Regions from separate parts of the Homo sapiens genome. Here regions 2, 3, 4, 5, 6 and 7 are each reported to be linked to region 1. The links are microRNA targets in miRTarBase. Many come from high-throughput screens and were not tested one by one. Region 1 holds a microRNA gene; each other region holds the end of a gene's coding sequence.
Evidence for each region. Region 1 holds the annotated microRNA hsa-miR-6501-5p (AGUUGCCAGGGCUGCCUUUGGU, at 1,210-1,231, shown strand). A microRNA usually pairs through its seed, bases 2 to 8, with sites in the 3' UTR of a target mRNA and lowers its output. Matches are read on the target gene's strand: a 7mer-m8 pairs with bases 2 to 8, a 7mer-A1 pairs with bases 2 to 7 and ends in A, and an 8mer does both.

Region 2: the mRNA of ZNF546 is a reported target of hsa-miR-6501-5p. Seed matches in the 3' UTR shown: 7mer-A1 at 3,513-3,519 and 7mer-A1 at 3,145-3,151.
Region 3: the mRNA of PSMD1 is a reported target of hsa-miR-6501-5p. The part of its 3' UTR that is shown has no 7-base or 8-base seed match.
Region 4: the mRNA of CISD2 is a reported target of hsa-miR-6501-5p. Seed matches in the 3' UTR shown: 7mer-A1 at 312-318.
Region 5: the mRNA of TKFC is a reported target of hsa-miR-6501-5p. Seed matches in the 3' UTR shown: 7mer-A1 at 2,721-2,727 and 7mer-A1 at 2,558-2,564.
Region 6: miRTarBase lists LAYN as a target of hsa-miR-6501-5p. Seed matches in the 3' UTR shown: 7mer-A1 at 1,200-1,206.
Region 7: the mRNA of RNF170 is a reported target of hsa-miR-6501-5p. Seed matches in the 3' UTR shown: 7mer-A1 at 1,190-1,196.

Annotation. Positions count from the first base shown.
Region 1 is chr21:33,549,455-33,553,522 of GRCh38, forward strand. MIR6501 (microRNA 6501) reads left to right here and starts at 1,208; the gene lies at 1,208-1,274. It overlaps SON (SON DNA and RNA binding protein), which reads left to right. Exons shown (of 12, transcript NM_138927.4): 3 at 22-4,068.
Region 2 is chr19:40,015,579-40,019,646 of GRCh38, reverse strand. It overlaps ZNF546 (zinc finger protein 546), which reads right to left. Exons shown (of 7, transcript NM_178544.5): 7 at 1-4,068. The coding sequence ends at 3,866. Among named protein-coding and RNA genes, the nearest start is that of ZNF546, 21 kb to the right of the region's middle. RefSeq lists an enhancer at 3,860-4,068.
Region 3 is chr2:231,169,928-231,173,995 of GRCh38, forward strand. It overlaps PSMD1 (proteasome 26S subunit, non-ATPase 1), which reads left to right. Exons shown (of 25, transcript NM_002807.4): 24 at 639-794; 25 at 2,608-2,900. The coding sequence ends at 785. Among named protein-coding and RNA genes, the nearest start is that of ARMC9, 27 kb to the right of the region's middle.
Region 4 is chr4:102,887,066-102,891,133 of GRCh38, reverse strand. It overlaps CISD2 (CDGSH iron sulfur domain 2), which reads right to left. Exons shown (of 3, transcript NM_001008388.5): 3 at 1-3,793. The coding sequence ends at 3,704. It also overlaps a transcript of SLC9B1 not described here. Among named protein-coding and RNA genes, the nearest start is that of CISD2, 20 kb to the right of the region's middle.
Region 5 is chr11:61,346,011-61,350,078 of GRCh38, reverse strand. TKFC (triokinase and FMN cyclase) reads right to left here. Exons shown (of 18, transcript NM_015533.4): 18 at 837-3,728. The coding sequence ends at 3,576. It overlaps CYB561A3 (cytochrome b561 family member A3), which reads left to right. Exons shown (of 7, transcript NM_153611.6): 7 at 1-1,274. Among named protein-coding and RNA genes, the nearest start is that of CYB561A3, 14 kb to the left of the region's middle.
Region 6 is chr11:111,560,137-111,564,204 of GRCh38, forward strand. LAYN (layilin) reads left to right here. Exons shown (of 7, transcript NM_178834.5): 7 at 1-1,609. The coding sequence ends at 322. Among named protein-coding and RNA genes, the nearest start is that of LAYN, 21 kb to the left of the region's middle. RefSeq lists a silencer at 1,868-2,162.
Region 7 is chr8:42,852,393-42,856,460 of GRCh38, reverse strand. It overlaps RNF170 (ring finger protein 170), which reads left to right. Exons shown (of 7, transcript NM_030954.4): 7 at 33-3,160. The coding sequence ends at 302. Among named protein-coding and RNA genes, the nearest start is that of THAP1, 11 kb to the right of the region's middle.

The DNA.
Region 1 (4,068 bases):
ATTAATTTCTATTACTTTTAGACTTGAAAGAGGGCTCCAGAAAAAGTAGATGCGTATCTGTACAAACAGATCCTACTGATGAAATTCCCACTAAAAAGTCAAAGAAGCATAAAAAGCACAAAAACAAAAAGAAGAAAAAGAAGAAAGAAAAGGAAAAAAAATATAAAAGACAGCCAGAAGAATCTGAGTCAAAGACGAAATCTCATGATGATGGGAACATAGATTTAGAATCTGATTCCTTTTTAAAGTTTGATTCTGAACCTTCAGCTGTGGCGCTGGAGCTTCCTACAAGAGCATTTGGCCCATCTGAGACCAATGAATCCCCTGCAGTTGTGCTAGAACCTCCTGTAGTATCAATGGAGGTATCAGAGCCACACATCTTAGAAACTCTGAAGCCAGCTACAAAAACTGCAGAACTGTCAGTTGTATCTACATCAGTAATCTCAGAGCAGTCAGAGCAGTCTGTGGCAGTAATGCCAGAACCATCCATGACAAAGATTCTGGATTCCTTTGCAGCAGCACCAGTGCCTACTACAACACTGGTGTTGAAGTCATCTGAGCCAGTTGTAACAATGTCAGTGGAGTATCAGATGAAGTCTGTGCTGAAATCTGTGGAGAGCACATCTCCAGAGCCATCAAAGATCATGTTGGTAGAGCCCCCAGTAGCAAAAGTGTTAGAGCCTTCAGAAACCCTTGTGGTATCATCAGAGACACCTACTGAGGTGTACCCTGAGCCAAGCACATCAACAACAATGGATTTTCCAGAGTCATCTGCAATTGAAGCGCTAAGATTGCCAGAGCAGCCTGTAGACGTACCATCGGAGATTGCAGATTCATCCATGACAAGACCGCAGGAGTTGCCGGAGCTGCCTAAGACCACAGCGTTGGAGCTGCAGGAGTCGTCGGTGGCCTCAGCGATGGAGTTGCCGGGGCCACCTGCGACCTCCATGCCGGAGTTGCAGGGGCCCCCTGTGACTCCAGTGCTGGAGTTACCTGGGCCCTCTGCTACCCCGGTGCCAGAGTTGCCAGGGCCCCTTTCTACCCCAGTGCCTGAGTTGCCAGGGCCCCCTGCGACAGCAGTGCCTGAGTTGCCAGGGCCCTCTGTGACACCAGTGCCACAGTTGTCGCAGGAATTGCCAGGGCTTCCAGCACCATCCATGGGGTTGGAGCCACCACAGGAGGTACCAGAGCCACCTGTGATGGCACAGGAGTTGCCAGGGCTGCCTTTGGTGACAGCAGCAGTAGAGTTGCCAGAGCAGCCTGCGGTAACAGTAGCAATGGAGTTGACCGAACAACCTGTGACGACGACAGAGTTGGAGCAGCCTGTGGGGATGACAACGGTGGAACATCCTGGGCATCCTGAGGTGACAACGGCAACAGGGTTGCTGGGGCAGCCTGAGGCAACGATGGTGCTGGAGTTGCCAGGACAGCCAGTGGCAACGACAGCGCTGGAGTTGCCGGGGCAGCCTTCGGTGACTGGGGTGCCAGAGTTGCCAGGGCTGCCTTCGGCAACTAGGGCACTGGAGTTGTCGGGGCAGCCTGTGGCAACTGGGGCACTAGAGTTGCCTGGGCCGCTCATGGCAGCTGGGGCACTGGAGTTCTCGGGGCAGTCTGGGGCAGCTGGAGCACTGGAGCTTTTGGGGCAGCCTCTGGCAACAGGGGTGCTGGAGTTGCCAGGGCAGCCTGGGGCGCCAGAGTTGCCTGGGCAGCCTGTGGCAACTGTGGCGCTGGAGATCTCTGTTCAGTCTGTGGTGACAACATCGGAGCTGTCAACGATGACCGTGTCGCAGTCCCTGGAGGTGCCCTCGACGACAGCGCTGGAATCCTATAATACGGTAGCACAGGAGCTGCCTACTACATTAGTGGGGGAGACTTCTGTAACAGTAGGAGTGGATCCCTTGATGGCCCCAGAATCCCATATATTAGCTTCTAACACCATGGAGACCCATATATTAGCATCCAACACCATGGACTCCCAAATGCTAGCGTCCAACACCATGGACTCCCAGATGCTAGCATCCAACACCATGGACTCCCAGATGTTAGCGTCTAGCACCATGGACTCCCAGATGTTAGCAACTAGCTCCATGGACTCCCAGATGTTAGCAACTAGCTCCATGGACTCCCAGATGTTAGCAACTAGCACTATGGACTCCCAGATGTTAGCAACCAGTTCCATGGACTCCCAGATGTTAGCAACCAGCTCCATGGACTCCCAGATGTTAGCAACCAGCTCCATGGACTCCCAGATGTTAGCAACCAGCTCCATGGACTCCCAGATGTTAGCAACCAGCACCATGGATTCTCAGATGTTAGCAACCAGCACCATGGACTCCCAGATGTTAGCAACTAGCTCAATGGATTCCCAGATGTTAGCATCTGGCACTATGGACTCTCAAATGTTAGCTTCTGGCACCATGGATGCTCAGATGTTAGCGTCTGGTACCATGGATGCCCAGATGTTAGCGTCTAGTACCCAAGATTCTGCTATGTTGGGTTCAAAATCTCCTGATCCCTATAGGTTAGCTCAGGATCCTTACAGGTTAGCTCAGGATCCCTATAGGTTGGGCCATGACCCCTATAGATTAGGTCATGATGCTTACAGGTTAGGACAAGACCCTTATAGATTAGGCCATGATCCCTACAGACTAACTCCTGATCCCTATAGGATGTCACCTAGACCCTACAGGATAGCACCCAGGTCCTATAGAATAGCACCCAGGCCATATAGGTTAGCACCTAGACCCCTGATGTTAGCATCTAGACGTTCTATGATGATGTCCTATGCTGCAGAACGTTCCATGATGTCATCTTACGAACGCTCTATGATGTCTTATGAGCGGTCTATGATGTCCCCTATGGCTGAACGCTCTATGATGTCAGCCTACGAGCGCTCTATGATGTCAGCCTACGAGCGCTCTATGATGTCCCCTATGGCTGAGCGCTCTATGATGTCAGCTTATGAACGCTCCATGATGTCAGCTTATGAACGCTCCATGATGTCCCCAATGGCTGATCGATCTATGATGTCCATGGGTGCTGACCGGTCTATGATGTCGTCATACTCTGCTGCTGACCGGTCTATGATGTCATCGTACTCTGCAGCTGACCGATCTATGATGTCATCTTATACTGCTGATCGTTCAATGATGTCTATGGCTGCTGATTCTTACACCGATTCTTACACTGACACATATACAGAGGCATATATGGTGCCACCTTTGCCTCCTGAAGAGCCCCCAACAATGCCACCGTTGCCACCTGAGGAGCCACCAATGACACCACCATTGCCTCCTGAGGAACCACCAGAGGGTCCAGCATTGCCCACTGAGCAGTCAGCATTAACAGCTGAAAATACTTGGCCTACAGAGGTGCCATCATCACCATCTGAAGAGTCTGTATCGCAGCCTGAGCCTCCTGTGAGTCAAAGTGAGATTTCGGAGCCTTCAGCAGTGCCTACTGATTATTCAGTGTCAGCATCAGATCCCTCAGTTTTAGTATCAGAGGCTGCTGTGACTGTTCCAGAACCACCACCAGAGCCAGAATCTTCAATTACGTTAACACCTGTAGAGTCTGCAGTAGTAGCAGAAGAACATGAAGTTGTTCCAGAGAGACCAGTGACTTGTATGGTATCTGAAACTCCCGCCATGTCAGCTGAACCAACTGTGTTAGCATCAGAGCCTCCTGTTATGTCAGAGACAGCAGAAACATTTGATTCCATGAGAGCCTCAGGACATGTTGCCTCAGAAGTATCTACATCCTTGTTGGTTCCAGCAGTAACTACTCCAGTGCTGGCAGAGAGCATTCTGGAGCCGCCAGCCATGGCTGCCCCAGAGTCTTCAGCTATGGCTGTCCTGGAGTCTTCGGCTGTGACCGTCCTGGAGTCTTCGACTGTGACTGTCCTGGAGTCTTCGACTGTAACTGTCCTGGAGCCTTCGGTTGTGACTGTCCCGGAGCCTCCTGTTGTGGCTGAGCCAGACTATGTTACCATTCCTGTGCCAGTTGTTTCTGCGCTGGAGCCTTCTGTGCCTGTTCTGGAACCAGCGGTGTCAGTCCTTCAACCTTCTA
Region 2 (4,068 bases), not on the chromosome of region 1:
GGATTATAATATCAGTGTAGAAAGAGCTAGTGAAATTTTGATATTACTTCCTCCTTGAAATTTTCAATAAAACAAAAAATATCTCCTCCATCTGTACTTACATCCAATTCTCATTCACAATGCTGTAATTATCTTTTTCCTTTGATTAGCTATACTAAAATCAAGTATTAATATTTTTTCACAAAGCCTTAATAAGTCTATTTTATTTTCAAATTCATTAACTCCTTTTAATGATCCTCCCTTCTTTCTTATATTGACTTATTTTTCCCTTAGTTTCTTGAGTTTAATGCTTCTTCATTCTTTTAACAGTTTTATAAGTGATTACTATGTTAAAGAGACAGTATTAAGTCACTGGGAGTAGAGTGGTGAGCAGGAGAAACAAAGTGCTGGCCCTCAATATTTGTTTCCTGAATATATTAACAGGTTACTGATTTTTCACTGAGCACAGGTTTGGCCACATTCACAAATTCTGATCTTACCATTCATTTCTAAATTGTCCTTTATGGTTTCATTTTCTTTTTGATCTAGTGTCATTATATTATTGGAGATTTTAAATTTCCGAAATGCCAAAGTACTACTCTACAGATCGTTTACTAAATTAAAAGAAATATTTAGCTCTACAACAGAGAAACCTGGTGATTACCATATGAAGCAAGTATTTCAGTTACCTATCGCTGTGTGGCAAACTACTCCAAAACTTAGTGGCTTAAAACAGGCCATATTTTAAACGTAAATCTGCAATTTGGGCAGGCTCATGGGGGAAAGCTTTTCTCTGCTCCACTTAGCACCAGCTAGGATAGCCTGAAGGCTAAGGGTTAGAATCATCTGAAGGCTCATACCCTCATACACTTGGTGCTGGATCCCGGCTGTTACCTCAATTACAGCTGTAATCAGGACAGCTTTACTTAGCTTTTCTATGTGATTACTTGGCATCTTCATAGCATGGTGGCTGGGCTTCATCCCAAGTGGGTCAGGCAGAAGCTGTATTGCCTTTTATGACTTAGTCGTGGAAATCACAGTGTTATTCCTGCCATAAACACAGGCCCACCTGGCCAGATTCAAAAGGAAGGACCATGAGCTCTACCTCTTGGGGAGTGTTGGTATCACATTGTAAGATGAACATGCAGAATGGGATATATTGGTGTGGCCATCTTTGGAATGTATGTTCTGCTACACCAAGTGAATGAACTAAGGATACCATAGTGGTATAATGACATTGTATGCCACCTAATGGGTTACAAATTGAAATACAAAATTTCTCCCATTAAGTATTCTTGCCAAAATATTTAATCTGTCCCTAATTGGGTCTCTAATCCCAAATTCCAGTTAATGGGAAATACTGGGGATAAAAAAGCACATTTAAAAATACTTTGGGAAGGCCGGGTGCGGTGGCTCATGCCTGTAATCCCAGCACTTTGGGAGGCTGAGGCGGGCAGATCACCAGGTCAGGAGATCGAGACCGTCCTGGCTAACATGGTGAAACCCCGTCTCTACTAAAAATACAAAAAATTAGCCGGGCATGGTTGAAGGCGCCTGTAGTCCCAGCTACTGGGGAGGCTGAGGCAGAATTGCCTGAACCCGGGAGGCGGAGCTTGCAGTGAGCCAAGATCGCACCACTGCACTCCAGCCTGGGCGACAGAGACTCCATCTCAAAAAAAAAAAAAAAAAAAAAAAAAAAAAGTCAATGTTGCAATAAAGTTGTGGGGGGAAGGGCCATTCTTACTTTAAAAGAGACGAACAATGCACAAATGTAATTCATGAATTTGGTTCCTGAATTTAAAAATAACCTATGAAAAGCATTGTTTACACAAATGAAAAGAATGAACACAACTGAGAATATGAACACAGACTGAATATTACAGATTATGGAATTATTGCTAATCTCCTTAGGTGTGAAGTTACTGGGGGTCAAATCTTTTGGCTTCCCTGGGTTACACTGGAAGAAGAATTATCTTGGGCTACACATAAAATGTGCTAACAATGGCGGATGAGCTTAAAAAAAATCACAAAAAAAATCTCATGTTTTAAGACAGCTTACAAATTTCTGTTGGACTGCATTCAAAGCTGCCCTGGGGCACAGACAGGTTGGACAATTGTTATATAGCAATTAAGTAGGAGGCAGCCTTTATTCTTAGATGTGATGTGTTATAGTATCTGCAATTTATACTCAAATACTACAGCAAAATATGTAAATATTATGTATAAGCAAACCAAATGTGACAACATATTAACAATTGCTGAATCTAGATAGAACATAACTGTTCATTATTCTTTTAAGTTTTCCAAATGGATAGTGGCTGTTTTTAATTTATCATTGTGGGCAGAAAAAGCGACTGACATACCTGCTTTTTGGGTTATAAAAAGAAAAAAGCATTACAGCTATCCCTGAGTCTTCAAAACTTTACTCTCATAATCTTCACACCCATCAAATCTAGAGATTTCTTTCTCACATTAATTTTCAGAGATAGGTTCTGACTTTATAAATGGAAGTTTAATCTATTTTACTGGATATTATCTCCAGTTAATTATTCCAATCTAAATAAGGAGTGAAAGGTAATGGACAGTTTTTACAAATTTCTTACACCCACAGGGCCTTCCTCTCACATGAATGTACTAAATGTATCCCCAATGAAAAAAATAAAGCAATATTTATTGATAAAATGCTGTGTGCCAAATACTCTTTTAAAGGTTTTATCTTTTATTAGCATTTCATCCTCACAAAAATACTATTAGGTGGTACTGTTATTACCATTTTAAAAACCAAGGCACAGGGGCATGTTTTGCCAAACACCACATAGGCAGAGGTGGAATTATGAGAATTATATTATTTATATATATCATAAAGATAGGCCAAGGCTGGTCTTTCCCATGTTCATTACATTAACAGAATCATTTTCCGTTACAGTGCTATATAAAGTGTGGTCCATGTGTTGACACTGGCCCACAAATTGTTTGCTTCTGGTCTCTGCAAAAGTTATAGATACCAAGAGCAAGTATTTAGAAATGTTTGCAGCAATCTGACAGAGTTAACTCAGTTAAATACCATAATAAAAAACTGGGGCTTTTATTTTGTATGTCTGTTTTTTTCTTTTCATTTTTCTGGTAATCTATTTATTTATTTATTTAAGAGACAGAGTCTTGCTCTGTTGCCCAAGCTAGAGTGCAGTGGTGCGATCTCAGCTCACTGCAACCTCTGCCACTTAGGTTCATGCAATTTTCCTGCCTCAGCCTCCTGAGTAGCTGGGATTACAGGCACCCCCCACAATGCCTAGCTAATTTGTGTATTTTAGTAGAGAAGGGGTTTCACCATGTTGGCCAGGCTGGTCTTGAACTCCTGACCTCAGGTGATCTGCTCACCTGGGCCTCCCATAGTGCTGGGATTACAGGTGTGAGCCACTGTGCCTGGCCCGCATTTTATTTATTTATTTAGAGACAGGATCTCACTCTGTCACCAAGCTGGAGTGCAGTGGCACAATCATGGCTCACTAAAGCCATGAGGCAGGGTCTCACTATGTTGCCCAGGCTGGTTTCGAACTCCTGTCTTTCCACAGTGCTGGGATTACAGGTGTGAGCCACTTCACCTGGCCCATTATTATTGCATTTTAGAGAAGCACTGTTCAACAACAGTTTGTAGGGGAAAAGGCCCTTGATGGTTTGGGATGCAGTGCATCAGTATCAATCTTCTAAAGTCTAACAGGGACTGAGTGATGCTATAGTCTTTCGACTCTTTAACATACGAAATAATTTCTGATAAATTGTGAGCATGAAGTAAAAGGGATTCCCACATGTTCCGTAACAAACAGAAAATTTCTTAAATTACAAATTCTCTGCTAAAGGGCATTTTCTAAAGGCCATCGTATTCTCTTTACATTATGCATAGGACTTCCTCACTAATATGATTTCTCTGATGTAAAGTAAGTTGATCACTACGAATAAAGGCTTTTCCACATTCTTTACATTGATAGGGTTTTTCACCAGTATGAATTCTGTGATGTCGAGTAAGTTCTGAATTAACACTGAAGGCTTTCCCACATTCTTTACATTTATAGGGTTTCTCACCCGTGTGAA
Region 3 (4,068 bases), not on the chromosome of region 1:
GTGGATTTATAGATTAAAGTGAAAAACCCGGGATATCTGTGTTATTCTCTCCATCATTCTGAAATTGCTGGAGAAAAAATTGGCTTTTAATTTATACACTCTCGTGTTCAAAATGATTATCATCTCACAAATCATACAGTGTGCATTAGACTGCTTCTCAAACTTCAGTGTGCATCAGATTGACTGGGATCTTGTTAGAATGCAGATTCTGCAGATCTAGGGTGGGGCCAGCTTTTCTGCATTTTTAACAAGCTCCAGATGATAATGATGCTTCTGGCCCAGGACCATATCTTGAGTAGGAAGGAATTAGGATACTATATTTGGACAGTAAACATTCTTCCTGCAGTGAGACTGAGGCTGGTAGTCAAGGCCATGGCTGGGAAATAACTATTCTTAAATTGGGATGCATCATCCAAGTAGAACAGCATCACATGTTATACCATCTAGAGCTACTGGGTTAAGTTTGCAAATACTTCGTATAGATCACAGTTATCTTTATCCCAGTAAAGTTCTACTCCAGTTTTTCACTTCCAAATCATTTAAGTAGTTTTAAAGTACCATTTAACAAGTATTTACTCTAGATTGTGGAGCACGCTTGAAATATGAGTGTACGCTTCTGCACGCCCCTGTGTTTCCAGCTCTCTATTGGAGGCATCATCATTCTGAAGGATACCAGTGAAGACATTGAGGAGCTGGTGGAACCTGTGGCAGCACATGGCCCAAAAATCGAGGAGGAGGAACAAGAGCCAGAACCCCCAGAACCATTTGAGTATATTGATGATTAAGGGCCAGAGGTGCGTGTGCAACAAAATTATGAAGGGAAACTTCTTTGTCAATACTTCACAAATGTTTTTTGCAAGGACATCATCTCACGTTTTTCCTTCCTTTTGTGTTTAATCCTTATTTACCTAAACAGTATTAAAACTTCCCCGTTTCAACCTTTTTCTGCATATATAACCACAAATTCCTTTTTCTTTCCTCTTTGACTCGTACTCTACTCACGTTATTCAAAGTGGCTGGTCTGCAAACTATTTTTATAGGTCCATAAGGAGATAGGAAGCTTACTCCAGAATCTGTCTGCTCAACGCTTCTTTCATCAAGAAAGTCTTCCCCAAAACATCAGCTGAACTGCAGTTTGCTTAGTGATAGAGCTGATTTACATTCTGATGTAAGCTTCTTGTTGTGGATCAGTTATAGTTGTGGACTGGCACTGGCCCATAGGTGACACTTTTGAGTAGCACAAATATAGGCTTCTCACTGATTTTTCTCTCTCCCCATCTCCTTCGACAGTATTTTTGGCATAGAAGCCTTAACATTCATTCATTCTATGATGGTGCTATTGAATATCTACTGTGTATAAGACATAGTGCTTATAGGGACTTTGAGGTCAGTTAGACTAACCACAAGGCTGTGTCCATTGACAAAGATCATTTACTATATCAGTGTCTTAACAGTGTTGAAAGGGGTCTTTAGATGGGAAAGTTTGGAGTAATCTAATTTCATGAAATTGTCGTTCTTCATTTCCCCATTTTCTTTTGAGTGTTCATCACATATTTGAAGACATTGTGAGACATAATCAAGGTTTCCTAATTCCACCCAAGCACAAACACGTTTTCAGACAATTTTTTTTTTTTTTTTTTTTTTTGAGACGGAGTTTCGCTCTTGTTGCTCTTGGCTGGAGTGCAATGGCGCAAACTTGGCTCACCGCAACCTCCGCCTCCTGGGTTCAAGCGATTCTCCTGCCTCAGCCTTTCGAGTAGCTGGGATTACAGGCATGCGCCACCACACCCGGCTGATTTTGTATTTTTAGTAGTGACAGGGTTTCTCCATGTTGGTCAGGCCGGTCTCAAGTTCTGGACCTCAGCTGATCCGCGAACCTCGGCCTCCCAAAGTGCTGGGATTACAGGTGTGAGCCACCACGCCCGGCCAATTCATTCTACTCTTTAAAAAAAATAAGGACAGTATCATTTGTTATATTTAAAGGTCTGGTTGCAAATCTAGCATGCTGTGTGTTAGATACTGACTAGCAATTTAGGAAAGATTTGCAGAAATCTCAGATAAATATTAAGGTAGAAACCTGCCATTAGTAGGAAAATATATTTATACCTCAGGAAGACTATTAGTTTGGGCCTTAGAGAAAGGCAGATTTATACTAACCTTCCTATTTTCTAAACTTACTTTTGAAAATTATCTTTCAGCCTTGATAGTTTCCTAAGCTTTACCCAACTTGCACAGTACAGCGTAGGCTATCATGATCACTCAGTCTGTCTGAGAATTGAGGTGACTCACGTTAGCTCCCATCAAGCCTTTGGCAATACCTCATGGAAAACCCTTGATTACAGCTTTCAAGGCAGTTAATTACAAAATGACTTAGAGGTTTATAGCTGGAAACTGGAATCTTGTTAGTTTTCAAAGGGGTAAAATATTCAGTCCATTAGGAGTTTGGAAACTATAATCTGTCGTGGCACAAACTGGTATATTAGGACTGCAGAGGCAGGGTTGGGGCCTAGTTTTAGATTTCAACAGTTAATAGTAAAGAGGAAAAAAAAGAATGTCTTGAAATTAAGAATGACCCTAGCTACTACTGTTCTTTCTTCCCTTTCCCAGGATCTCACTTGCTTATCTGAAGAAGATTGTCCAGGCTCATATTGGGAATGCTTATGAGGAAATTCATGCCGAGACCTGCTATTCAATGCATGTATCGTTGCCTCTGCACTGACCTGAAGAACCCTGTCTCCAAGTCTTTGGTTGAAGAGAAGATATATGACTGTTGAGTGTGCTCTTTCACAGAACTTGGTTTTCAAATAAATATAAGATCTCCAGATGGACAAGACATTTGTTTTTCAGCCTGGGTTTTTAATAAATGTATCTAATCCTCCCCACACCATGAAATGCCTAAATCCCAAGAGCCAGAGTCTTGATTTGCTAGGATGAGTATGCACGACTTTCATATTGATGAAAAAGTCAAACTATTCTTAAATTATAGACCATGAAAATAATGGAAGGGAAAAAAATCAAACCTTGCTCATCACCCCCAAGAATTCTCTACAGTTTTGTTGTGGTTGTGGGTTGTTGTTTAATATGGGGTCTAATCAGCCAGGGCAACATGGTGAGACCCCCATCTCTACAAAAAAATTGAAAAATTAGCTGGGTAGGCCAGGCAGGGTGGCTCACGCCTATAATCCCAGCACTTTGGAAGGCCAAGGTGGGCAGATTGCTTGAGCCAAGGAGTTTGAGACCAGCCTGGGCAACATGGCAAAAACTCACCTCTACAAAAAAAAAAAAAAAATTAGACATGCACAGTGGCACGTGCCTGTAGTCCTAGCTACTCAGGAGGCTGAGGTGGGAGGATCACCTGAGCTTGGAGGTCGAGGCTGCAGTGAGGGTTGATTGTGCCAGTGTACTCCAGCCTGGGTGACAGAGTTAGACAGTTTCTGAAAAAAAAAAAATTAGCCAGGCAGGGTGGTATGTACCTGTAGTCACAGCTATTCAGGAGGCTGAGGCAGGAAGATCAATTGAGCCCAGGAGGTTGAGGCTGCAGTGAGCTGTGTGTGCACCACTGCACAACAGCCTAGGCAACAGGGCAAGACCCTGTCTGGAAAAAAAAAAAAAAAAAGAGCCTCACTCTGTCGCTTAGGCTTAGGCTGGTCTCAAACTCCTGGGCTCAAGCAATCCTCCCACTTTAGCCGCCTGAACTACAATTTTTTAATCGAATAGAGGGTGTCATCACTTACTGAAGTCCCTTTCATAATCCAAGGGAATTGTGTGTTTAGGCAGCTCAGAAGCTTTTTTGTTAAACCTTTGCTTATTGTTTTTTGCTTTTGATCCTGTTAATAGATAAAATTTATTTAGTTTCCTTTAGCCACAGGATCTGATAACGTACCTTTATTCCTTTCTCATTTTCCAATCTTTTTTTCATGTTTTTTAAAAATTAAAGTATAATTTAAAAGCAATAAAATGCAGACATTTGAGGTATATACAGGATAATGAATTTTGACAAGTACAATTTTTGTTTCTAGATTATCAAGCCTTTCTTGGATGCTAGGCTTTTAGAATAAGCAGTCAGGG
Region 4 (4,068 bases), not on the chromosome of region 1:
CGATATTAGTTTAACAGAGGGAAAATTGTTAATAAAGTAGATGTAATATGTAAACACATACATCATTTCCTTGTTCTGGATCTATCAATGATTTCATACTTTGACTATATCTAAATTATCTGCTTTTCCCAGCCTTCAAAGTGGTCTTTAATTCACCCCTGCTTTCCATGGGTTAAATTTCCTACAATGCTGAGATATTTATATTGGTTTCCTCCTGTCCTACGAACTTCGTACTGATTTCTGCCACAATAAATTTGATTAGATGAAAAAAAAAAAAGACTTTTTTTTTTTTTAAGATAGGGTTTCACTTCTGTTGCCCAGGCTGGAGTGCAGTGGCACAATCTTGGCTCACTGCAACCTTGGCCTCCTCAACTCAAGAGATTCTTGTGCCTCAGCCTCCCGAGTAACTGGGACTACTGGTGCGCCACTGTGCCCGGCTAATTTTTGCATTTTTCTGTAGAGATGAGATCTCACCACGTTGCCCAAGCTGGTATGGTACTCCTGAGATCAAGTACTCCACCCACCTCAGCCTCCCAAAGTGCTGAGATTACAGGTGTGTCGTCACTGCACCAAGCCAATGAGGCACTCATTTCTGAATAAAGTACAAGCATTAGTAACATCTCCCCTGGTCTCTCCAGATTGGTTATGCTGCCACAACTGAATTCTAAATGGGTTAAGTATTATACAATTACTTAGGCTTCTTTGGTAGGTATCAAATAAAACATCCACCTAAATTCTTAAGAACCTTGTTAAATAGTGGCATTTACAAACTCTCTATACAGATTCTGACAGCACATTTCTATTGGAAGACTATGGAATCACAATGAGGAAGGTAGTACTATATAGATCAGCAGCTGGCTTAATTGGCTTCCTGTAACTTACTTATTAACAAATTAGGTTACAAAATACAAAGTCAACTTAATGAATCATCGTATTTGGCATTGAACTCAAAGCTGAATTGTGTGAATTGTGAGGTGCTTTCCATAATTCAACTTGCTTAATTACCCATATGAATGAATCATTCATACCTCAAGCCTGCTAACACTTTTGGATACCTGATGTTTATGTAATAGTGATGTTCATTTGCTGAGTAAGGCATGAGTAGTTTCCTAGGTAAGCAGAAGCAGTCCTCAAAACAATCATGTGACGCAGTAACAACAGGGCTGTATTTTGAAGGCTCTAGAAACCGAAGACATGTATTTCAAGAGCCAAGTTACTTTTTTTTTTCTTTTACCACTTATCCTCAAGTTCTACAAGTTACTTACACTGCATCAATTCAAATACATTTGGTTATTAGATGTCTATTTTTTAAAGATGGACAAGATAAAATTGTGTAAATTTACAAGAAGTAATGCAAACTGCTAATAATGCTTATTTAAAGGAGTTATTAAAGCAACAGCTTACTACCAACCCTACGCTTCTGAAAAATGTGCACAGGTGGGAAAAGATATGGGCATAGCTCTTAGCATATTTTAACAACTGAAAATGTGGCAGGGAAAAAGTCTTTATTCTGAGAGTACAACCATCTTACTTTTGGGGTATTAAAATTACCTTTTATGAGATAATTCATTTTCAATGTTATTTGACAAAATTCAAAGTTGGTCATTCATTTTAGTCTCCTCATTTTTAGTAAATTTGCCTCCTGTAAAATCTAAGTTATGGGAACCACTAGAACATGTGTGAAAACAAGTTGCTGTGAGATGCAGTGATAGATTTTACAAAAAGAAGAGCATTTCATGAACACAGATCAGGATATCCAAAATTTTGGTGAGGTGGATTTTTTCCAAAGTCTGGTGACCAACTGTGGAAAAATAATTGGTTAATCTGACAGTGAGGCCCCTTAACAGTGTTGAAGAAAATGTATCCGAAAAAGCACCCAGAGTCAAAGAAGTGAGAGCAATGCTGTATTTATCCCCCACTGACATGTGAGGAAAGAACAATTTTGGACATACACCTTGTAAAACTTCTCAAAAACCAGACTACATTTCTAACTCTAAAATACATGCTGCTGGTCATGAAGATGTTACGATCATATAATTGAACCTACTGACATTACATGTAATAAATTAAAAACCCAAGTACCATGCTTAGTGTAGTGTCTGGTACATACAAGTGCCCAATAACAATTAGTTTTATTTCTAGAAGGATTACCTCTGTCTGCCTCTTGTACATTCTTATAAAAAGAAAGCAAAGTGAACTGAATAAACTGTATCTTAAATAGACTAAAGAAAAGCTTTTGTATTTGTCTTTTCTCAACTAAGCAGTTTCCAGAGTGCCTAGCAAGGTCTCAGAAACGCACTCAGTGAAGGGAGTTAAATGGTAACTCTTTTACAACAGAAAGGATTCCCTACAGAGCCCAGCAGAGGCGGAGCACTAGGTTGCCCAGCCTGGCCTTGAACTCCTGGGCTCTTGTACTGCAGCCATCCTCCCACCTCAATCTTCCCAGCAGTTGGGACTACAGGCCTGTGCCATGGCACCTGGCTAAGGATAGCTATTATGAGAGTAGTAATGTAAGATGAAACTAAAAAGATTCATAATAGTAGGATTAAAAAGCACAAAAATTTTAAAGATTCTCCAGTACGTTTATTTCACAAACTTTTTTGTACAGTTGACCCTTACACACGGGTTTGAACTGGGTGGGTACAATTACGCGCATACTTTTTTCAATCAAATGCAGGTGAGGTCACACAGATCAGCATTTGTGCATGGGATGTGAAACTCATGTGTACGGAGGGTCAACTGGAGGGCCAACTTTTCTACATATGGGTTCTGCAAGACTTTCTGTGGGACTTGAGTATGGGCAGATTTTGGTATATGTGTGGCCCTGGAACCAGTCCCTAGCGTATACAAGGGATGACTGTATTTTAATGGTTTATAGTGTTAAAAAGAGAAAAATATCCACATAAACACAATTTTGAACACTGAACTATTTTAATATGAATTAATGTCTTATGTTTATTACCAATTATCTTCAAATTGCAGCAGCCCATGAGTTTGGTTGTAAGTGTTCTTGCCATTCCACCCCAGCTGTCACTGAGTCAGTTTAAAATACACACACACACACACACACACACACACAGACACAAGCCTTTTGTAAAGTAAACAAATCTTTTATACTGTAAATAACTGTTCCTCAATGGAACTTTTTGTATCCAGTTTACTTCTTTTCTAAAGCTGGGATATTCATATTAAATACACAACAATCTCTATAAAGCAAAGAGTCTATCTCTGTGAAAACACAAGTAATTCTTGATGGCAATATTTTTCTTAATTCACCTAACCAAATGCAGTTTGGAAGGCCAAAACGAGAAAAAAACACTTCAGATTATCAAAACCAAAAGAGATATGAAAAAATAACATATTTAACAATGTAGGTGGGAATTTTAAATACAAGATCCTGTTGAAAATATTGATATTCAAAGAAACAAACAGCTTTGGATCCATAGCCACAATTTAGGTTTTCCTAGATTAAAATCAGAAGTGATTTTATTGTTGGAAGATACATTAATTCTTTGAAGTCAGAATAAGAGGCTTGACAATTTAATTTCTAATTAAGTGACTGAATAGACAAAGGATCAAATACAAACAGTAGTGCAGGAAGAAAATAAATTGGAAGAAATAATTGTTCAACCAGTAGTAATAATTAAGACCACCATTTTAAAATTTTCTATACACAAAGAATGAGAAAATATTGTTATTATTATTATACTTCTTTCTTCTTCAGTATTAGTGGACCCACATTATCTCCTGTCAATTCATTGTGTTTATTATGTGAACCATCGCAGGCAGGAAACTAAAAAGAAAAAAGAATTACAAGTGTTATTTTTAAAATATGATTCATTAGGTAGAAACATTTGTGAAATGCTCTCAGAAAGAAAGCATATCACTTGCTAAAAAAAATCAGATCGTTTTCCTGAGTAATAGTTACATTCTACATCCAACTGAACCATATTCAAAATCTAACAATTTAAACAGTTACTTCATTATTTGGTTTAGATTTTAAATAAAAACCTATGAATGAGTCCATATGAGTGATTAAAATAGACAACAGGTTTAAAAGGGAATCGA
Region 5 (4,068 bases), not on the chromosome of region 1:
CTTCTGCACTCCTTGGCGTCAGCCTCTCAGGTCCTCCATTCACACGAGGTCCTCCTCGCTCTGGCCGCTCTTGCTGCTCCTGTCTGAAGAAATCAGACTGATTTCCTCTTAAGACTCCTAGGGATGTGGTGAAGAGCTGGGACTCAAGTGCAGTCCACGGTGTGAAACATGAGGGAGGTGAGGTGTCCGTCCACTTCCCCCATAAAGGTGTGCATTTCAGTTAGGCTGCCCCGCCACAGAGCAGGCTTCATCTGCTCTGCCATCCAGCCCCATCTGGATGTGAGGTGGGGTGGAGACATCATGGGGTGATTGCAGAAAGGGGGAGTGGCGGCCCACGCAGCTTCTGCTGAGGAGCTGACCGCTCTGAGCTGTTCTGTTTCGTATTGCTGCTCTGTGTCTGCATGTATTGTGACCGTGCGGCTCCACCTCTTCCAGCTGCTGCTACAGCTGAGGCCTGGATCCCGGCCTTTCCCTGTGACTTACGTGTCTGTCACCGGCAGGCAGCCCTACAAATCCTGGTGACCTGCTCTCCCAAGAACAGAGCCTGTCCCCAGATGTCCCAGTAGCGATGAGTAACAGAGGTGGCTGTGGACTTCCTCTACTTCTCCTTGCTGGATCAGGGCCTTCCTGCCTCCCGCTGGGCAGGTCTGGCCTTGCTCTCTTGGCAGGGCCCCAGCCCCTCTGACCACTCTGCAGCTCACCATGCAGCTGATGCCAAAGTTGTGGTGTCCAGTGTGCAGCAGCCCTGGGAGCCACTGCCACCTTCAGAGGGGTTCCTTGCTGAGACCCACATTGCTTCACCTGGCCCCACCATGGCTGCTTGCCTGGCCCAACCTAGCGTTCTGTGCCATGCTAGAGCTTGAGCTGTTGCTCTTCTTCAGGGGAGGAAATAGGGTGGAGAGCGGGAAGGGTCTTGCTCCTAAGTGTTGCTGCTGTGGCTTTTTTGCCTTCTCCAAAGACGCACTGCCAGGTCCCAAGCTTCAGACTGCTGTGCTTAGTAAGCAAGTGAGAAGCCTGGGGTTTGGAGCCCACCTACTCTCTGGCAGCATCAGCATCCTACTCCTGGCAACATCAGGCCAACGTCCACCCCAGCCTCACATTGCCAGATGTTGGCAGAAGGGCTAATATTGACCGTCTTGACTGGCTGGAGCCTTCAAAGCCACTGGGATGTCCTCCAGGCACCTGGGTCCCATGACCAGCTCCCCATCTCCATAGGGGTAGGCATTTCACTGGTTTATGAAGCTCGAGTTTCATTAAATATGTTAAGAATCAAAGCTGTCTTTGTTCAGGCTGCTATAACAAAAATATAATAGCCTGGGTGGCTTAAACAACAAGTGTTTATTTCTCACAGTTCTGGAGGCTATAGACATCCAAGATGAAGGCGCTGGCAAATGTGGTGTGTGGCAAGGGCCAGCTTCCTCAGAGACCATCTTCTCACCATAACCTCACATGGTGGAAAGGGCGTGAGAGCTCTCTGGGGCTCCACCCTCATAACCCCATCACCTCCCAAAGGCCCCACGTCCTAACACTACCATAGTGGGGGTGAGCCTTTCAACACAGGAATTTGGGGGGGACACAAACATTCAGTCTCTAATAACAGCCCTCTAATGAAATGATGCTGTGGTTAAATGAGTTCTGGGCCAATTTGTAAAAGCCTCAGGACAGGTCTGACCCTCACAGACCTAGGGAGGGGCCAACCGGAAGGCACCAAAGATCCACATGATCCTCTGTCTTCATGGAATGGCATGTGTGGATTCACATGCAGCTCATTTATGTGCGTGTCCTTAATAGCTAATGGCACGTGCTTATCTCACGAGGAAGGAAATTTTTCCTATTTCATAATCTGAGAAAACAAGACTCAAAAAGGGTGACTAGGTTGAGGTCACCCAGCCAGGAAATGACAGAGCTGGGATCCACAGGCCACCGTCTGAGGTCAGCCTCCTTCCCAGCTGCTGGGCGCATACTCCTGTGCACGTGGATGCCTTGTGGTCAGGGACGTATGGTGCAGCCGACAGACAGGACCCTGGGTAGAGAAGCCCAGGCACTCGGGGAGCCTGCAGCCAAATTTGGGCCAAGTAGGTGACGGGGGTTGGGAGGGCAGGAGGCTCTTTCCTACCAGCTAGTGGTAGAGCAGATGACCTGGGAGGGGCTGGGGGCCCAACCCCTGTGATAACCGTAACTCTCAGTGAGTGAGCACTTGGACTGTGCTGGGCTTTATGGCCCATCTTCATCAATTCATTTGAATCCTTTCATGTCCCCATGAGGTGGGTACCATTCTGATTTTACAGATCCCAAAGGGCTAAAAAATAGGCCTTAGCTCCTGTAGCCGGGTTAAAGCAGAATCAGATTTCAGATCATGTGTATGAGTCGACAGCCAGTGCCTTTAACCACTCCCTACCCTACATGTGTGCCAGGCATGTGCTGTTTGTCTCCACATGCATACAGTGCCCCTGCTCACCCTGGTGCCATCAGTGATCGCTCTAGAAAGAGACCTAGGGGCTGGCTTGGCTGCAGTTTCTTTTTTTTTTTTTTTTTTTTTTGAGACAGGGTCTCGCTTTGTTGCCCAGGCTGGAGTATAGTGGCATGCTTATGGCTCACCGCAGCCTCGACCTCCTGGGCCCAAGCCATCCTCCCAACTCAGCCTCCCAAGTTAGGACTATAGGCACACACTACTATGCCTGGCTAATTTTGTATTTTTTGGTAGAGACAGGGTTTTACCATGTTGCCCAGACTGGTCTTGAACTCCTGAGTGTAAGGGATCCGCCTGCCTTGGCCTCCCAAAGTGCTGGGATTGCAGGTGTGAGCCACCGTGCCCGGCCTGGCTGCATTTTTTGATCTACAACTGAACCTTAGACTATGATGATTTCTTTTCCTTCTGGTGTCCCAAATGCCCATTCGACTCCCGAGGAGCCACTGAATTATTAATTCAATGCTAAGAAAAGCCCCTCTACCATTCTTACATGCATCAGGTGTGTGTACTGGAAAGGGGATGGGTCGGGGGTCTCAGTGGAAGCAGCCCAGCTGAGGAGACACTGCCTTAGGGGCTCAGGTAATAAAGATCTGCCTGGTAGAAGATGGGTCATGATGCCTGCAGCCAGGGCTGTGGGCCCCCTTGTTTACATGCTTGGGAAAAGGTCCCTCAGAGGAGGCAGTGTCTTTCTTGCTTCCATGTATTATAGTTTATTAACTTTCTTTTTCACGCTCACTGGGGTTAAGGTGCGGAAAGCATTTCACAGGGAGTCTTAAAACCAAATTAGGATTGCCAGGTAAAGGCTGCACAAGGAAAATGCCTTATCTCTGAAGCCCAGAGCTGGCAGGGGAGGGCATGACCCAGGGACTCCACCCTCCTGCAAAGGGAAAGGGCATGCTGGAGAGGCATGGGGACCCACTCCAGCTCACTCTGGGTGCTGTCTGTAGTTCTGGAAGCTTGGTGGAGGATTTCCTGCTCAACTTAGAGGGTGGGCCAATGGGGCCAGGCCGGGGGAAGGTGAGGGTTGGAAGGCAGAAGGAAGTGACAAAGGCCACCTCAGCACAGCAGTGAGAGGAGCTGAGGCCAAGGGAGGCAGTCACACACCCTAGCTCTGCAAGACCTCCAAGATGGCCCGGAGGATGGCAGCAGCTGCCACCGCCCCGGGGTCTGGCTGCTCCAGCCGTGCTGAGCTGATATAACTGGCTCTTCCGGCTCCAGCTTCCATATTCTTGGTGGCCTCGGCTGCAGCTTCGGCACTCTGGGGGATGGGGTGTGGGAGCAGGTTCAAGGGCAGATCACCAGGCCGCCTCCTTCCTGCCATGGGCAGAACGTCTCTGCCGTGCAGCCTGGCCCTGCACGCCCTTGCCCTGGCTCTGCCAGCACCCTCTGCTCTGTCACCAAATGGAAAGTCACTTCTCATCTACTTCCAGCAGGGAAAAGGGTCACCATTCACTGAGGCCCTGTCACATCCCAGGCAGTGTGCGGGGCTCTACATATTTCCTTAGCCACATAACCACCTTCTGAGATAGGTGCTCATCTCCATTGTACAGAGAAGGAAACTGCGGTCCAGGAAGGTTATTAACTTGCTCAGGGTCACA
Region 6 (4,068 bases), not on the chromosome of region 1:
CATCTGGCCCTCTCCTCACCAGGGAAACAGCCCGGACCTAGAGGTCTACAATGTCATAAGAAAACAAAGCGAAGCTGACTTAGCTGAGACCCGGCCAGACCTGAAGAATATTTCATTCCGAGTGTGTTCGGGAGAAGCCACTCCCGATGACATGTCTTGTGACTATGACAACATGGCTGTGAACCCATCAGAAAGTGGGTTTGTGACTCTGGTGAGCGTGGAGAGTGGATTTGTGACCAATGACATTTATGAGTTCTCCCCAGACCAAATGGGGAGGAGTAAGGAGTCTGGATGGGTGGAAAATGAAATATATGGTTATTAGGACATATAAAAAACTGAAACTGACAACAATGGAAAAGAAATGATAAGCAAAATCCTCTTATTTTCTATAAGGAAAATACACAGAAGGTCTATGAACAAGCTTAGATCAGGTCCTGTGGATGAGCATGTGGTCCCCACGACCTCCTGTTGGACCCCCACGTTTTGGCTGTATCCTTTATCCCAGCCAGTCATCCAGCTCGACCTTATGAGAAGGTACCTTGCCCAGGTCTGGCACATAGTAGAGTCTCAATAAATGTCACTTGGTTGGTTGTATCTAACTTTTAAGGGACAGAGCTTTACCTGGCAGTGATAAAGATGGGCTGTGGAGCTTGGAAAACCACCTCTGTTTTCCTTGCTCTATACAGCAGCACATATTATCATACAGACAGAAAATCCAGAATCTTTTCAAAGCCCACATATGGTAGCACAGGCTGGCCTGTGCATCGGCAATTCTCATATCTGTTTTTTTCAAAGAATAATAAAATCAAATAAAGAGCAGGAAACAGAGTGTTAGTCTGTGTCTACAGCCCTTCCTCTGCATGTGGCCACAGGGGACCTTTTTTTGTTTCTCCTGACATCCAGACTTGGAAATATCTAACTACTTGCAAAACTAAAAATGAGGCCAGGCGCAGTGGCTGACGCCTGTAATCCCAGAACCTTGGGAGACCAAGATTGGAGGATAGCTTGAGTTCAGGAGTTCCAGACCTTCCTGGGCAAAATAGTGAGACTCTGACTCTACAAAAAATTTAAAAATTAGCAGGGCATGGTGGCATGCGCCTGCAGTCCCAGCTACTCAGGAGGCCGAGGTGGGGGAATTGCTTGAGCCCAGGAGGTTGAGGCTGCAGTGAGCTAGGATCACGCCACTGCTCTCCTGCGTGGGCAACAGAATGAGACCCTGTCTCTAAACAAAAATATTTTTTAAAGAAACTAAAAATGAAATTTGAGTCTCAGCTTCTAGGCTTATGTACTCCCATCCCTGATACTACACGTTGTTCTGTTTGCATGTTTGTTACTGCAGCATCAACATAACATGACTAATAATGATGACAGTTCTACCTTTTGTTGACAGACCTCATTGTTTCAATTGTGTTTGGCCTCAAATTCAGAGAAAAGTTTCTCAGCCCAGCATCAATCATATACACATTGGAGGTCTGAAAGCCATTATTTAAATCACCAGCAATTTCCCTCAATCAGCTTCATAATCTCATATTTTAACCTTTCCTCATATGTCTTATTTTTTAATAGCTCAGCAACTTTGCTTCACATATGGAGCCCCAACCTCTAGAGTTAACTAGTCTGGGTCAAAGCAGTATCGAATGTAGTGGATTGGAATCCCTGCCAAATTATCTGCCCTACTGCAGAACTGAATATACTAGGAAACAAAACTCCCTGTTTTGGGAAGTGTGTTTTGTGGTTACATTTCAAGCAAAAACTGAGCACATGGTCCTGAAGGACTGATTCACTGCTCTAAAATGCCCAAGGTTCCATTCTTGCTTCAGACAGCCTCGCTCTATCATCTGCCCTGTATCCTGCACTGTGCCCCACAACTCTGGCCCTTATTACACTGCAAGCTTCGCTAGTAGGAATCCTATCTGCCGGTCAGCATCATGGGTCCTGCAACCCATGGCAGCACCTTGCAGGGTAGGCAATCAATGTCTATTGAATGGATGAACAATGCATCTTTTCAGACTGATGTCAAATAGTTTGAATATTTCAGCTTAAAAGTTTGTTTTTCACAGTCCCCCTAGGTGGAGGAGGTAACTGAGTCATTGTAATTGGAATGCCTCCCAAGAAGGAAGCATAGTAACAAGTAAACAGATGCTGGTGAATTGTGCTAACAACTTACTTTATGTCACTCATGCTTGAACTGAGGACCCACTGTTAATCTATAAAGGGAGTAAGGTTGTAATCAGAACAGACCCTCAGCATCTTCCCTTCCCTTTTTTCATTAATGTGTTGTCTCTTCTGGGACCTAGAGATCTCTTCTGTGTTTGTACACAGCCAGTCTTACCCTGCATTTTAATTATTCACTTTCTTTTTCCTCCTCAGGTTTACTAGCCTGAGTTTACCCAACTCCATTTCTATCTCTAATAATTGCACTTCACTTATGTAACAAATATTTGCTAAATGTTAAGGGTTTGCTATGTTCCCGTTGAGCTTGAGCTTATTCATTAAGCTAGTATCATATGGAAATTTAGTAAGTTTGTTTCATAATTGCTATGATTTGAATGTTTGCCCCCTTCAAAACTCAGGTTGGCCAGGCATGTTGGCTCATGCCTGTAATCCCAGCACTTTGGGAGGCTGAGGCAGGAGGATTGCTTGAGCCCGGGAGTTCAAGACCAGGCTGGGCAACATAACGAGACCCCGTCTCTACAAAAAATAAGAAAATTAGCTGGGTGTGGTAGTGCATGCCTATAGTCCCAGCTATGCAGGAGCTGAGGTGAAAGGATTACTTGAGCCCAGAGGTCAAGGTTGCAGTGAGCTCTGATCATGCCACTGCACTCCAGCCGGAGTGACAAGTGACATCCTGTTTCAAAAACAAACCAACCAAGAAAAAAAGACAAAAAAAACCTCATGTAGAAACTTATTCCCCAATGTGGCAGTATTGACAGGTGGGGTCTTTAAGAGATGATTGGGTCATGAGGGCTTTGCCCTCATGGATTAATGGGTTTTCACAGGAGTAGGACTTGTGGCTTTATAAGAAGAGGAACAGAGACCTGAGCTAGCACCCTCAGGCCCCTCACCGTGTTACGCCCTGCGCTGCCTCAGGACTCTATAGAGAGTCTCCACCAGCAAAAAGACGCTCCCACATGCAGCCCCTCAACCTTGGACTTCTCGGCCTCCAGAACTATAAGAAATACATTTTGTTTCTTTATAAATTACCCAGTTTTAGGTATTCTGTTACAAGCAATAGGAAATGGACGAAGACAACCATTTAAAACCGTATTTCCCAACCTTTTTTTCCACTGTGACACACATGACAGATAAAATGTATGTATCAGACAACCACTTTGGTCTCTTTACTCGACAAGCATTCCTGTTTGTTTGTTTGTTTGTTTGTTTTTTGAGACGGAGTCTCGCTCTGTTCCCTAGGCTGGAGTGCAGGGTCATGCGATCTTGGCTCACTGCAGCCTCCACCTCCTGTATTTGCAACTTTTCTTAGTTTGAAATTCTTTAAGGAACAGCATCTGCAAACACAGGTACTGGAATGGTTGGTAACATATTACTTGCAGCACACCTTCCATCTAAGCTCAGCACACAGGGGTTTGCCATGATGTTGGAGTTGAGAGCATCTAAAAGCCTCTGATCCAAGATAAAAATAAATCATTAGTAAAGCTGTCAATCAGTACCCAAGCCCCAGGCTCAGGCCCAGGACCCCAAACCCCACCTTTGTCATTTCCTTGCAGGCTACAGGGAGCCATGTGAGCCACCCCACAGAAGTGAATCCGGAGATTCCTTTCCTCCACAGTTTCCCATCCCTCCCCTGTGAGAACGCAAATAGGTTGTGTGATCTAAGGTGACTTCCAGTTCTAAAATTATTCAATATGATTCTTTTTCTAATTTGTTAAGCATGTTATGCCCACATTACTTCTGAGCTTGTAGTAAGACACACCTAATGGTGGATAGCAAACTGAAGACAGAAGTGTCAAATAAGGTCTAGGAAACTGCAAGCCCAGAGATGGAGAAGCAACAAAGCCAATTATTCTGTACAGCCCCTTCCTTCTTTCTTCCAAAGAACAGTAAATG
Region 7 (4,068 bases), not on the chromosome of region 1:
TGAATCATAATACTTGTTTTTCCCTCTACCAGATTATGGAGAGAATTATGGATCTACCCACTTTACTGAGGCATGCATTCAGGGAAATGTTTTCAGTCGGGGGCCTTTTCTGGATGTTTCGCATCAGGATAATACTTTGTTTAATGGGAGCTTTTTTCTATCTTATATCACCTCTAGATTTTGTACCTGAAGCCTTGTTTGGAATTCTAGGCTTTCTAGATGATTTCTTTGTCATCTTTTTATTGCTTATCTACATCTCTATTATGTATCGAGAAGTGATAACCCAAAGGCTAACTAGATGAAAAAGAAAACAAAACTGAGTTTACTAGGATATCTGAGCTAATGTAGAACATCAAACAGAAGGACCCATGGCAGTATAAAGCAATGAAGCAATGGAGTATTATCTCACAAATATAAAACCACTATAAGACAAACATTTGATTATCATTTGACAAATACCTAGGTATAACTGGAATTTTCATGTTTGAAGTTCTAATATTAAGTTTAGAATTATAATGATCTACAGTTGTATCTTGATTCTATGTTGTCTGGAAAAAATATGGAATTATATAAAAAGGGATGCTTTTATATATTTTTCTTTTCCCCAGAATTACTTAGATTAATTAGATGTATAGTAAAATATTGTTAAATGTCAGTTTATCCATCTTATCCTTCTCAGCAGGTACCTATATGATAATATATAGCTGTGAAACTCATCTAAATATTTTTGTTCCAATAAAATATTATATACTATTGGGGAAAATTCAGTATTTCTTTTAGTGCTAGCTAAGTTTTGTGCATTTGGAGCAGTTCTGCCTTTTCATTCTGGTATAATTAATTATTTGCTATCAGCTGAAACTGAAAGAAGAAACTTGAACTTCATACTTCGATATCATATTCTAGTTTACAGAACACATTTTAATCAATAGAAGAATTAAGATGAAAAACATGGCCGGGCGGGGTGGCTCACGCCTGTAATCCTAGCACTTTGGGAGGCTGAGGCGGGTAGATCACAAGGTCAGGAGATCAGGACCATCCTGGCTAACATGGTGAAACCCCGTCTCTACTAAAAATACAAAAAATTAGCCAGGCGTGGTGGCAGGCGCCTGTAGTCCCAGCTACTCGGGAGGCTGAGGCAGAAGAATGGCGTAAACCCAGGAGGTGGATTGCGCCACTGCACTCCAGCCTGGGCAACAGAGTGAGACTCCCTCTCAAAAAAAAAAAAAAAAAAGATGAAAAACATTTATCTCCAGTCAGCACACTTGATGTTCACAGTTAGACATTTAAACAAGAGCTCATCCTTTCGTAGTAGATATAAAAGTAATTTGTAAAGGGAAGATTGTTTTAGGAACCTGGGCGATGCTGCAAACACAGAGTAGCCTGATGCATTTCTGAGGAAGGTGAATCTTCGTGTCTTTGAGCATCAAGCCAATAGGAAGGTACTGGGAACGGTATTTACATTTGACAAAAGAAATTACTGGTTAGCTATAGCAACAGATTGGACAAATTTTGTTAGTTTTCTGTTGTCAGAAATTTTTATAATACTGTCTCAGGATGGCAGCACACAGCTCAGATTCATGTCTTGAGCCAAACAAGTGAATGTATCTGAGAAGACTCAGTACCACATGGTACTGGGAGATCTTACTCACTTCAGCTGGCGTTGCTCATTAGTGAATGTATGACAGCAGGATGTGAGGGGATGCCCAGGAGTCAGTGTTAGCATTGTCATCTGAGATCACTGCTATTAATATCATCCATTAATTTATTAGTGAGCTTCACTATATGCAGACTGGGAGATAAGGAGAAAATCTGTCACATTCTCTCTAGCTAATCAGATCAGCTACCAATTAATGAGATTCTGAATGAAATATCAATATGTGTTTTTCTAATTTGGACCTAGGACAGAGCTGTTGCTTGTCATAGAGAAAAACAATAATGCTTAAACATAGCACATTATAATTAAAGCAGGTTTCTCACATACTTTTCATTTTATCCTTTGGATAATTTTGTGAGGAACGCAGGACACCAACTTCCCTTTCATAGATACAATCCCCATGCTATTGATGAAAGTGTTTTTGAATGAAGTCATACAACAAATAACTGATCAAAGTGGCATTACACCAAAATTTCTTAGTAGGACTCCTGCATAGAATGTTTAGATAGACGTGAAAGTTGTTAAGAGGAACAGCAAGAGAGAAACTGGTTCTTTGGAAGTCTTTCGTGCTACATTATACCTCCATCAGAGTAAGACAGCTTAGGCACTCCTAAGAGGAAAGGTCTGTGGAGATGACATGAATCCGAATTCTACACTTCCAAATCAAATAGGTAAAAGGGTGGCATACATCACAGAAAAACATTTCAGCTGCAGTCACCAACTTGAAAAGCGAGTGAGTAGGAGTTTGTCACACTGCCATGTACCAGACTGGAAATGCATTTCCTACCAATTACACATTTGGTGTGGGGGAATGGTGATGTCATTTTTTGACAGGATTTTATTTTGTGTGCATGCATTCTGCTCCAAGTGTCACAATTCTGGTTACAATAATTATAATATTTGGAGTTACTACTAAGACTTTCCTGAAAGAGGTGTATTGTACCAAATTTTGTAACATAAAAAAATACTAAATGATCTTAAAGCTTCCTAAATTGTGAAAAGGGTATGTGCTAACATCTCAGAACTTTAGACCTGCTTGTTGTCATCTTTACCGATCTCTGATGATAAATGCAGAAGGGATCTGAGAGTTTTTAAAGCAAGTAGAGTCAATCAGAGTTTTGAACATCATAGTAATACTTCCGTGATTCAGAGTTAGATCATATAAATCAAAGTAACAATTTGGATTTTTTTTAAACAACAATATCATAACTGTCATAAAACAGATGGTCCAACCCCAGGAGCAGATAATAACTTGGGCAGCTCTGTGGGGAACAAGACGGGGAAAACAACTGTTCTAACTGCCCACTAGAACAGTGGTTTCAACTACTACAATTCTCAGTGTTTGAGAGGTACAAGGGAAGAAAGGACTATGTGGATCCCTTGTGGCTATGCAGATACCTACCTCACAGAGTTGTTGTAGAAGACTGGTGGTTTGGTTCAAACCTTGTGATTAAAGAGTTTGTCAAGCATTTTATTCTTTTGAATAAAAGCAACATATCTAAAACATTTTAAAGGTGTTATTTTTCTGTTTATTTAACAGTTGTTTGCTTTCAGAACTCCTGAAAGAGCATTCAGTATAATGGTTGCAACGGCTTTATCACTAATGGACATCCAATATCTCATCACATTTCTAATTAATTTTGTTAGGTTTTTTATTTTGTTTGTGTGTTTGTTTTTTGGTCAGAGACAGGGTCTCACTCTTGCCCAGGTTGGAGTGCAGTGTTACAATCATAGCTGACTGCAGCCTCGAATTCCTGGGCTCCAGTGATCCTCCTGTCTCAGCCTCCCAAGTAGCTGGGACTATAGATGTGTGCCATCACACCTGGCTAATTAAAAAAAAAAAAAAAAAAGTTTGTAGATACATGGTCTGGCTGTGTTGCCCAGGCTGGTCTAAAACTCCCAGGCTCAGCCTTCCAAAGTGCTGGGATTACAGGTGTGAACCACCATGCCCAGTGCTGAAAATTATTTTTCTATTAAGCAAATAAATTAATTTGCAGACCACAGTGAAAATTTAGTCACGGAGATGTTTTACAAAGAAAAATTCAACATTCAGTTCAATGCAACAAATTTTGTTTTAAATTATATGAAATTCTGCTGGACGCAGTGGCTCACACCTGTAATCCCAGCATTTTGGGAGGCCAAGGCGGGCAGATCACAAGGTCAGGAGTTTGAGACCAGCCTGGCCAACATAGTGAAACCCCGTCTCTACTAAAATACAAAAATTAGCCAGGTGTGGTGGCACGCACCTGTAGTCCCAGCTACTTGGGAGGCTGAGACAGGAGAATCGCTTGAACCTGGAAGGCAGAGGTTGCAGTGAGCTGAGATCATGCCATTGCACTCCAGCCTGGGTGACAGAGTGAGACTCCATCTCAAAAATTAAAAAAAAATAAATGAATAAATAAATTATATGTAAT